Homo sapiens: one gene and its partners. The protein of the gene in region 2 purifies or fractionates together with the protein of the main gene of each other region. This does not show direct contact. Each region holds a gene or a part of one and is shown on either strand. Other genes may lie near its edges. The genes, in order: TSR1, SERBP1 and NSDHL.

Evidence for each region.
Region 1: the proteins of SERBP1 (region 2) and TSR1 purify together in Homo sapiens (affinity purification with mass spectrometry; 3 studies listed by BioGRID and IntAct, with this or other methods). This does not show direct contact.
Region 3: the proteins of SERBP1 (region 2) and NSDHL purify together in Homo sapiens (affinity purification with mass spectrometry; 2 studies listed by BioGRID and IntAct, with this or other methods). This does not show direct contact.

Annotation. Positions count from the first base shown.
Region 1 is NC_000017.11:2,329,800-2,333,629, reverse strand, and holds part of TSR1 (pre-rRNA-processing protein TSR1 homolog), read left to right. Parts: coding exon 1-73; intron 74-505; coding exon 506-669; intron 670-1,270; coding exon 1,271-1,461; intron 1,462-2,520; coding exon 2,521-2,683; intron 2,684-3,004; coding exon 3,005-3,115; intron 3,116-3,259; exon of another isoform or gene 3,260-3,351; intron 3,352-3,830. UniProt on the Homo sapiens protein: Required during maturation of the 40S ribosomal subunit in the nucleolus.
Region 2 is NC_000001.11:67,409,803-67,413,402, reverse strand, and holds part of SERBP1 (SERPINE1 mRNA-binding protein 1), read left to right. Parts: intron 1-139; coding exon 140-196; 3' UTR 197-3,600. UniProt on the Homo sapiens protein: Ribosome-binding protein that promotes ribosome hibernation, a process during which ribosomes are stabilized in an inactive state and preserved from proteasomal degradation.
Region 3 is NC_000023.11:152,847,870-152,851,699, reverse strand, and holds part of NSDHL (sterol-4-alpha-carboxylate 3-dehydrogenase, decarboxylating), read right to left. Parts: intron 1,436-3,830; coding exon 1,277-1,435; intron 1-1,276. UniProt on the Homo sapiens protein: Catalyzes the NAD(P)(+)-dependent oxidative decarboxylation of the C4 methyl groups of 4-alpha-carboxysterols in post-squalene cholesterol biosynthesis. Also plays a role in the regulation of the endocytic trafficking of EGFR.

The DNA of each region.
Region 1 (3,830 bases), on a different chromosome or scaffold from region 2:
GCAGAGGTTATCCCAGATCCAATGGAGGGAGAGCAAACCTGGCCCACTGAGGAGGAGCTGAGCGAGGCAAAGGGTCAGTATTGGTAAACTTGTCTGTAATTCATCTGACCTGGAATTGTGGATTTTCTGTAGCTGTTCCAAGTGAGGGCCCTATAGGATAGAGTGGGGTGGGGGTATAGTTGAAAGTCTCTCCTCACCCTCAAATGCTGTATGTTTTCAATAAACAAACATTATACACAGTCTTGTTCCATTTCTCAAAATTACTTGTGTTAATGTTTTATCATGAACAGATAAACAACTTTGGATTCATTGCAGGGCTTATTTAGCTGTGTAAGTATTGCTAGTTGTGAGGCAGCTGAATTAAATTTGGAAGTAGTTCTATTTACAGTGTCTGCCAGAATTTCCCATGTTGGCAGCAGTATCTGGTGCCTTGCCTAGGTGAGAATAACCAGAGGGATAGGGAAAAGAAGTCTGTAATTTACTTAATTTGTTTGGGCTTTTACAGATTTCTTGAAGGAAAGTTCTAAGGTGGTAAAGAAGGTCCCCAAAGGAACATCCAGTTACCAAGCTGAATGGATTTTGGATGGTGGCAGCCAAAGTGGTGGGGAAGGAGATGAATATGAATATGATGATATGGAACATGAGGATTTTATGGAGGAGGAATCTCAGGTAAGGAAATGAGGCCTTAGGCCAATTCTGTGTCTAGCTCCAAATGTAAGGCAAAGTGCAGGTGTGATCTTGATGGGTGTGTGTGGTTAGTTTCTTTTTTTTATTTTTTTTATTTTTTTTTTATGAGACGGAGTCTTGCTCTGTTGCTCAGGCTGGAGTGCAGTGGTGCGATCTGGGCTCACTGCAAGCTCTCCCTCCTGGGTTCACGCCATTCTCCTGCCTCAGCCTCCTGAGTAGCTGGGACTACAGGCGCCCACCACCATGCCTGGCTAATTTTTTTGTATTTTTAGTAGAGACGGGGTTTCACTGTGTTAGCCAGGATGGTCTCAATCTCCTGACCTCATGATCCGCCTGCCTTGGCCTCCCAAAGTGCTGGGATTACAGGCGTGAGCCACCGCACCCGGCCGTGTATGGTTAGTTTCTTAGGAATGACTCTGTAGTTGCCAGGAATGAGGCTTTTGTTTTATACTTTAGACTGTATTAGAATTTATGTTGGTTGGGAATAGGGATCTAGTACAATTATTTTACTCTTAGCTTATTGGCCTTTGGGGTAGAGACAGGTGTGGATTTCTTCTGAAAAAACTGTAATCCTATTCTACAGGATGAGAGTAGTGAAGAAGAGGAAGAATATGAAACTATGACTATTGGGGAGTCTGTGCATGATGATCTGTATGATAAGAAAGTAGATGAAGAAGCTGAGGCAAAAATGTTGGAGAAATATAAACAAGAAAGACTGGAAGAGATGTTTCCAGATGAAGTGGACACGCCCCGTGATGTGGCTGCTCGAATTCGGTTAGTCAACAAGTCTATCAACAAATCTAAATTCAGTCAATACGTTTTTAAAAACTTGGCTCAGAGCTGTGTCACTGTGATGCAAAAGAAGAAAAACACATTTTTTCTGCTCCTGAAGAGCTAACATTTAATATGGGAAGGCAGGACATACATACGGGAAATGGTCATATGTAATTAAGTTCTAGACTGTGGTGCAGACTCACGTTACAGGACTTGAATGAAGGGGAAATACTAAGGTTAATTAGCAAATACTTCTTCCCAAAGGAGCCAGTACTCAATTGAAGTATATAATGTTTGGAAATTTTAGGGGGTTTGGGTAGAATAGCAGAAGTAGAAGAGTGAAGAAGTAGATGATTATATCTGTTCTGGAGGTGAGTGACTAAAGCCAGTGAATTAATTTTGGATATTAGGAGGTAAGGCTATGTATTAGGCCATTCTCGCATGGCTATAAAGAAGTACCAGAGACTGCATAATTTATAAAGAAAAGAGATTTAATTGGGTCATGGTCCTGCAGACTGTACAGGAAGCATGGTGTTGGCATCTGCTCAGCTTCTGGGGGTGTCCTCAAGAAACTTACAATCATGGCAGAAGGTGGAGGGGGAGCAAGTCATGTCACACGGCCAGCGCAGTAACGAGAGCAAGGCAGGAGGTGCTACACACTTTAAACAACTAGATCTCATGAGAACTCACTCAACAAGGAGGGTGGTGCTAACCCACTCATGAGAAAACCTCTCCCCTAATGCAGTCACCTCCCACCAGGCTCCACCTCCAACACTGGGGATTGTATTTCAGTATGAGATTGGGGCAGGGAGACACATCTGAACTGTATCAGGCCATTACCAAGCATCTTTTTTGTCAGTGAGAAGCTTGGGTTTGGTTCCGATAGAACTTGTTATAAGCTGTTCGGAGTGTCGTCTTGGTTTAAGCTGTTGGGTTGTTTGGAGAGAGGATGATTGGAGTTCTTTTCAGCTAGCTCCTTAGCCATTTTAGCAGTGACTTGAGTCTATATAGCACCATATAAATCTGACTTAATGTCTTTAAAAATCTTCAATATTCTAGATTTCAGAAATACAGAGGCCTTAAGAGCTTCCGGACATCTCCATGGGATCCTAAGGAAAACCTTCCTCAAGATTATGCTCGAATATTTCAGTTTCAGAACTTTACTAACACTAGGAAAAGCATCTTTAAAGAGGTTGAAGAAAAAGAGGTTGAAGGAGCTGAGGTATCTATCCTCCTTGTTCATCTTGTATGTTGCTTTCATTTGTCAACATGCTCCCTACTTTATTCCTTCTCTTGGCATGAAAATATGCTGCATTTGGGGATTAGGGGAGCCCCTGAGTCATTGATTAGAATGATACTGGGAACAAAGAGGTATCAGCTATGTTAAATGAAAAAGTGTGATCTGGGTAAATGAAGCATCTTGAAGGATGAGGGTTGGCTTTAAAAATTTTATCTGAGAGACTCAACATATTTGGAGAAAGCTTCCTCGCTATTGGGACTTTGAAAGGTAACTCCATGATTGCTTTCTGCTTTCTTGTGGCAGGTTGGCTGGTATGTCACACTTCATGTCTCTGAAGTCCCCGTCTCAGTGGTCGAGTGCTTCAGGCAAGGAACACCCTTGATTGCATTTTCTTTACTACCTCATGAACAGAAGGTAAATTGCTGTCTTGTGGGAAAATGGGGGGTTGTGAAACTTTCCAGCTGCTTCTGACAGTCTAAAATTCTGTTTATGTGTGACTAAAATTTTGCTCATTGGGATGCAAAAAGTCTGCCTTTATGATTAGGAATTGGAGAATAATAGAGAAGTCAATGATGGTTTTATTCATATCGTCTGAACCTGTCTGAAGCATCTCAGTGATGCAATCTCTGTGTGGTTCTGAGACTTCTCCAAGTATGTTTTTCAGACCAGATTTTGAATAAGGGTTGGCAGCCTTAAAAATAAAGGTTTGGCTGGGCGCGGCGGCTCACGCCTGTAATCCCAGCACTTTTTGGGAGGCCAAGGTGGGTGGATCACCTGAGGTCGGGAGTTCGAGACCAGCCTGACCAACATGGAGGAACCCTGTCTCTACCAAAAATACAAAATTAGCCAGGCGTGGTGGCACATGCCTGTAATCCCAGCTACTTGGGAGGCTGAGGCAGAAGAATTGCTTGAACCCAGTAGGCGGAGGTTGTGGTGAGCCAAGATTGCACCATTGCACTCCAGCCTGGGCAACAAGAGCGAAACTCTTATGTCAAAAAAAAAAAAAGTTTATGCCAAAGTGCAGATCTCTTTTCTCTTGGTGGCCAGTAGTTGTGTATGTTGTGGGGTATGTGATAGTTCTTTGATCGGTTTTGGTAAGGGCTCAAGAAGAAGGGGCTTGAATGAGTGT
Region 2 (3,600 bases):
CGCTGGGATTACAGGTGTGAGCCACTGTGCCTGGCCAACAGTAAGATTTTTTTAGAGTTCTGTCTTAATGTAGACACTAGCTAACAATGTAATTTTGAAGAACTGAGAACTGTGGTTAATTTTGGTTTTTCTTTTTCAGTCAAGTGCTTCTGCTCCTGATGTGGATGACCCAGAGGCATTCCCAGCTCTGGCTTAACTGGATGCCATAAGACAACCCTGGTTCCTTTGTGAACCCTTCTGTTCAAAGCTTTTGCATGCTTAAGGATTCCAAACGACTAAGAAATTAAAAAAAAAAAGACTGTCATTCATACCATTCACACCTAAAGACTGAATTTTATCTGTTTTAAAAATGAACTTCTCCCGCTACACAGAAGTAACAAATATGGTAGTCAGTTTTGTATTTAGAAATGTATTGGTAGCAGGGATGTTTTCATAATTTTCAGAGATTATGCATTCTTCATGAATACTTTTGTATTGCTGCTTGCAAATATGCATTTCCAAACTTGAAATATAGGTGTGAACAGTGTGTACCAGTTTAAAGCTTTCACTTCATTTGTGTTTTTTAATTAAGGATTTAGAAGTTCCCCCAATTACAAACTGGTTTTAAATATTGGACATACTGGTTTTAATACCTGCTTTGCATATTCACACATGGTCAACTGGGACATGTTAAACTTTGATTTGTCAAATTTTATGCTGTGTGGAATACTAACTATATGTATTTTAACTTAGTTTTAATATTTTCATTTTTGGGGAAAAATCTTTTTTCACTTCTCATGATAGCTGTTATATATATATGCTAAATCTTTATATACAGAAATATCAGTACTTGAACAAATTCAAAGCACATTTGGTTTATTAACCCTTGCTCCTTGCATGGCTCATTAGGTTCAAATTATAACTGATTTACATTTTCAGCTATATTTACTTTTTAAATGCTTGAGTTTCCCATTTTAAAATCTAAACTAGACATCTTAATTGGTGAAAGTTGTTTAAACTACTTATTGTTGGTAGGCACATCGTGTCAAGTGAAGTAGTTTTATAGGTATGGGTTTTTTCTCCCCCTTCACCAGGGTGGGTGGAATAAGTTGATTTGGCCAATGTGTAATATTTAAACTGTTCTGTAAAATAAGTGTCTGGCCATTTGGTATGATTTCTGTGTGTGAAAGGTCCCAAAATCAAAATGGTACATCCATAATCAGCCACCATTTAACCCTTCCTTGTTCTAAAACAAAAACCAAAGGGCGCTGGTTGGTAGGGTGAGGTGGGGGAGTATTTTAATTTTTGGAATTTGGGAAGCAGACAGCTTTACTTTGTAAGGTTGGAACAGCAGCACTATACATGAAATATAAACCAAAAACCTTTACTGTTTCTAAATTTCCTAGATTGCTATTATTTGGTTGTAAGTTGAGTATTCCACAGAAAGTGGTAATTATCTCTTCTCTCTTCCTCCATTAGAAAATTAGGTAAATAATGGATTCCTATAATGGGAGCATCACCACTTATTAAAACACACATAGAATGATGAATTAAAAAAGTTTTCTAGGATTGTCTTTTATTCTGCCACATTTATTGATAAACAGTGAAGGAATTTTTAAAAAATTTTTAAGAATTGTTTGTCACGTCATTTTTAGAAATGTTCTACCTGTATATGGTAATGTCCAGTTTTAAAAATATTGGACATCTTCAATCTTAAACATTTCTATTTAGCTGATTGGTTCTCACATATACTTCTAAAAGAAACTTTTATGTTATAAGAGTTACTTTTTGGATAAGATTTATTAATCTCAGTTACCTACTATTCTGACATTTTAGGAAGGAGGTAATTGTTTTTAATGATGGATAAACTTGTGCTGGTGTTTTGGATCTTATGATGCTGAGCATGTTCTGCACTGGTGCTAATGTCTAATATAATTTTATATTTACACACATACGTGCTACCCAGAGATTAATTTAGTCCATATGAACTATTGACCCATTGTTCATTGAGACAGCAACATACGCACTCCTAAATCAGTGTGTTTAGACTTTTCAAGTATCTAACTCATTTCCAAACATGTACCATGTTTTATAAACCTCTTGATTTCCAGCAACATACTATAGAAAACACCTGCTACTCAAAACACAACTTCTCAGTGTCATCCATTGCTGTCGTGAGAGACAACATAGCAATATCTGGTATGTTGCAAGCTTTCAAGATAGCCTGAACTTAAAAAGTTGGTGCATTAGTTGTATCTGATGGATATAAATTTGCCTCCTAGTTCACTTTGTGTCAAGAGCTAAAACTGTGAACCTAACTTTCTCTTATTGGTGGGTAATAACTGAAAATAAAGATTTATTTTCATGCTCACTTCTTAAAAGTCATAAAAACAATCAAATAGGATCATGTTTATTGTCATGTGTTTCCTGGTTTCTGACCTGTGTGCACACCCCTGTGTGTTTATAATTTTTAAATTGAATTTTATATGGGGTTTTTATTTGCTAAAAACCAGGCTGTTGAATCACATTTGGGAAGGGTACTTATCTTAATGACTAATGACTTAATTGGGAAAGTTGAATTCTTGTAAAATACAAAATCCAAGGACTTCTTGGATTTAATCTGATTGTCACTTCTTAGCAGATCACTTTTTTGATAATGAAAGTTAAGCATACTGAATGCTACTTTTGATTGACAAACTGGCTATAATAGTCTAGGGGAAAAATCCCTAAACAGATAAAGATTCCTAAAGTAATGGTGGCAGCTGATGTTTCAGTGAACTTTTATCTTGATGCGTTTAAATGGAAGTAATGCCAGACCTGAGATTTTTAAGGCATTTTTACAGCTTGTATTGAAATGATTGGAGACATGGTTTCTTTATTAGCTATTTTGAGACCTGTGGAGTTAAGCAAGACTTTTAAAAATTGGCACCATATACATCTAGTTAGTTCCTTTACTCTTATTTTTTTAAATAAAAGTAGTACACATCATTTCCAGGGTTGTAAATATATTTGGGGCTTGTTTTTGGTATGGATTTAAAAGGAGGATATTAAGTATTCATTCTAATTTTGTTATTTTTCTAGTTGCCAGAGATGGTTGCACTGAAATAGAACAGGGAGTTGCATACAAAGCCTAAATGTGTATTGGATTTCGAAAATACTAGGTTGGTGCAATTGGTTTTGTACCAACCTAACATGTCTTTAGGAAAGTACCATCATGTGGAAGGAAACAACAGGTGTTAAAAGGTTCAAAGGAATGAGAAATAGGAAGTTACTAGAACCTAACTGATGTTGACCTTAGAGGTAAGATTATTCAGGTATATTAGTGGACCTCCAGTCCAATGGTATAGCAAATTCCAGGGATCTCAGGTGCATGCAATTTTACTTTCTAAAGTAAACACTTAGAAAATAGATTATAACCCAGACGTTTTGGATTATACTGAGACAAATATGTAAATAAGTTTTAGCAAGTCTGAACATGTACCAGCGAGATCTTCAGGTTAACTAAGAAAAGCCCAGAAACTTCATTATTTACTGTGCTTTGTATGGCATAACTGGTAACAAGGCAGTAAAATGATACATATTTGAACTGGACCATAGTAATTAAATGATTTATCAATATCA
Region 3 (3,830 bases), on a different chromosome or scaffold from region 2:
GGTATCCTCTTCAAAGCTGGAGAGGCTTAGAGCAGCATGAGGGAGAACGGTTCGGAGGCAGCAATGATGAGCATGAAAGATGTCTACCCCATCTCCAGGCCTGGAGGTGTGGGCAGCACGGGAGAGAAAACAACCGTAACTTTGCAGCGGAAGCAATGGCCTTAATATTTCATCAACAAACCATATAGCGAATGACACCAAAGCCAAGAATAAGGGCCCAGTGACAGGCTGAGGGAAGCCATCCATAATAAGTACAACGGGCACAGGATTGGCATCCCAACTAGATCAACAAGGAAGCAAAGGTAACCCCAAAGACAAAGGGGCAAAGGACACAGACAAACATTTCACACAGGAGGAAGCCTGAAAGCCGATCACCCAGTGGCAGAGTGGCTGGTTACTTGGTCAGGGAGGACATGTGACTCTGAACATCAGTGAAGCACCACTTCATACTTCTCAGAATGGCAACACCAAAAAGTCTAGTTATGCCCAGTGTTGGCAAAGATGTGAAGCAATGGGGCTTGTGCCACATTGTGGATATGGAGGTAAAATTGACATAGCAGCTTTGCTGAGCCATTTGGCACCATCTAATAAAATTCAAGATATTCATACCTGTACAACATGGATGAAGCTTGAAAACATCATGCTAAGTGAAAAAAGTCAGGCACAGAGGTACAAATATTACATGATTCCATTTATATGAAATGTCCAGAAGAGGCCAATCCATAGATGGGAAGTAGATGAGTGGCGGCCAGGGGCTGGGAGGGGAAGAGAGGGGATGGCTACAAGATTTCATTTTGGGGTAATACAAATATTCTGGAGTTAGATCATGGGAGACAGTTGCACAGCTTTGTGGATGTACTGAAAATCACTGAATTGCACACTTTAAAAATGTGAAATTTGTGGTACATGAATTATATCTCAATTAAAAAATCAAGACCCTGTGGCCCAGCACACACTTGTTTTGCAGTTGGAACAATACAGCCCATGGACGGCTTTTGAAGTCAAGTTTCACTGGCATACAGCCACAGCCATTTGTTCATTTAAGTGCTGACCATGGCTGCTTTTGTGCTACCAGGACACAGCTGAGTATCTGTGACAGAGATGATGGTTATTCATTCTAAGCAGTAAGAATGTGGTGTTCTTTCCTATAACTTTGAAAATTTTCACAATGAAACAATTGTTTTTCAAACAAATTGGCTGGCTTCTGAGCAAGGGAAGTATCGTGGTTTCCCTTCGTGGGCTCGTGGGAAATCAGCAAGGCTGCATGGTCCATTACCTGTCGGCTGCAGAGGTCACCCAGAAAGAACCGCACCTGGGGATTATCAAACCCTTGCTGGATATCAAATACATTGACAGCATATCCTCTTGCCAGCAACTGCTCCACCATGTGCTGCCCCAGGAATCCAGAGCCACCGATCACTGTGCATCTCTTGGCCTGTGGAAAGAGAGGAACGGTGGGGAAGACCAGGGTAGTGAGGACTGGAAGCTACAGAGTCCAGACTTACATATCATGAGCCACTGCAATGGCAGATATACTTGTTTGTTTGGAACTCTTCTTGAGCCAAGTTGGAAGCTTTATATCATCCTGGTGTTCCATCACTAGTGCAACCCTAACCTTCTCTCCTGGGATCAGTAAGGAGGGAAGAGAGATAGCGAATGACACTGAGATTGACTTTGGTTGGGTTTGATGACAAGATCCATGCTTTGTATTCAGTGAAAGGAAATCAAACCACCTATGACCAAAACTGGACAATCTAAAAAATACCCCAAAAAACAGTGATACCTTCTTGTTCCCGATAGCTGATCCCTGGGCGCTTCTCTAAGGACAAAACAAAACAAAACAAAACGGCAGCCATTTGGTAGCTGATAGCTTGCACTGAAAACAACAGAAAGAAGAAAGCAGTCTCCATACTTGCAGGACAAAGTCAGTCCCTTTCCCTCTCTGGCCACAACAGGGCTGGGCTGTGTGGCTCTGGGCTCATCGCCCAACCCCTTCTTGCCTCAGCCTAGAAATCTAAGACCGCCTTGATGGGATCTCCTGGTGGGGCTGCAGTGAGGATGGATGAGCCCAGGGCTCTGCTTTCCCTCCTCCGAACTACAAGGAAGTTGAAGAAATGGGGAGAGCCATGGTGTTTATGTCTCAGCCTCCACAACACACACGATTCCTTGGGTAATTCCAACTCTGGTGACTGGGCATAATGAAAGGACACAGTAGCACATGCAGGCACTTAAATACCCTCATTTCAGGATGTTGATGCCAAACTGTGGCTGCTGCACACCAGACAAGCTGGCTATGGGTGTCTGTGAGGAGGACCTGTGATATCCCTCCTCCCTAGGGTCTTTCTAAAACTGTATCTGGGCCTCCTTAAGATGACAACCTCCAATTTCCTTAGCTCATATACAGTAAATCCAACTTGGGTTTGTGGAAATGAAAGATCTTAAAGAAATTATGTTCTAGATTTAAAAAACAAACAAATCTCCCTACTTATTCCTTAAACATCAACACAATTGAGCTATGCAAGAGACTCAAGGGATGCCAGGGCCAGACATCCTCTCTAGATCCACCTCCCTCCCAGTTGGGGTGTCCCATCTGAAACAGCACTCATACTGGATTCCACCAGGCCCAGCTGGAGCTGGCACTGTACTTTACCTTCATCTGTCCATGTGCAATCTACTAACAAAATCAGCCTCACCATTCTTCTACCACCCAAAACTAACTTCCCAACCTGTTCTTTTCTAGGCTTTATTCTGATTATTCCTAAACACATGTAATCATACCAGGTTACATGATTTGCACCTGGACTGAGATGTATATTTCCTCAAGTCATAGCCAAATTAAATACAAAACTCACATCAATCCCTTTTCTAGCAATCCCTTTCTTCTCCCCTCCTCCCAAGTCAGCTGTACAGGCAAACTGTAGCTATTTAGAATAACTCTGAGCTGCCTGTTTCCCAACCTGGATTTCTGCAGTTTACTAAAAGTCTGGCTAAGCCCAAAGACAGTCAGAACTAGATATGTTACTAAAGCATCCTGAAAGATTTCAGACTGCCTTGTTTATTTCATTTGGCATCTCTAGTTACAGGTGTTTCAAAAGGTTGCTAATCTCTTCAAAAAACAACCTTGCTGTTAGTCCAGTGTGATTTCATTTCACGATTTTAATTGTGACTAATCAGTACGCTACTCTTGGACAATGTGACGTGGATTATTTTATGATATTGAAATGTTCTATCAATAATGTTTGGGATGAGTAGGCCAATGGCTGTTCCCTGGAGACCCTTGTAGTGATGGGAATCAAACTGGCCTTTACCCCAGGGAAGTCAAATGTGTGATAATCATACCTATAATGCTGTGTGATTACAGGAGATCACATGAAACTTTTCATGACCACTTTTTACTTCTCACAGCCACAGTGGACAAGAATGAACATGTACTAACAATCAAGTATAAAACTCAAGACTGGAAACAGCAAGACTCCATAATGGGTTACTGAGGTGAGTTATAAGATCAACCTCTTGGAGACAGTGTTAAGAATAGGGGCCAGGCACGGTGGCTCATGCCTGTAATCCCAGCATTTTGGGAGGCCAAGGTGGGTAGATCACCTGAGGTCAGGGGTTCGAGACCAGCCTGGCCAACATGGTGAAATCCCGTCTCTACTAAAAATACAAAAAATTAGCCAGGTGTGGTGGTAGGCGCCTGTAGTCCCAGCTACTCAGGAGGCTGAGGAGGGAGAATTGCTTGAATCCGGGAGGCAGAGGTTGCAGTGACCTGAAATCACGCCACTGCACTCCAGCCTGGGCGACAGAGCCAGACTCCATCTCAAAAAAAAAAA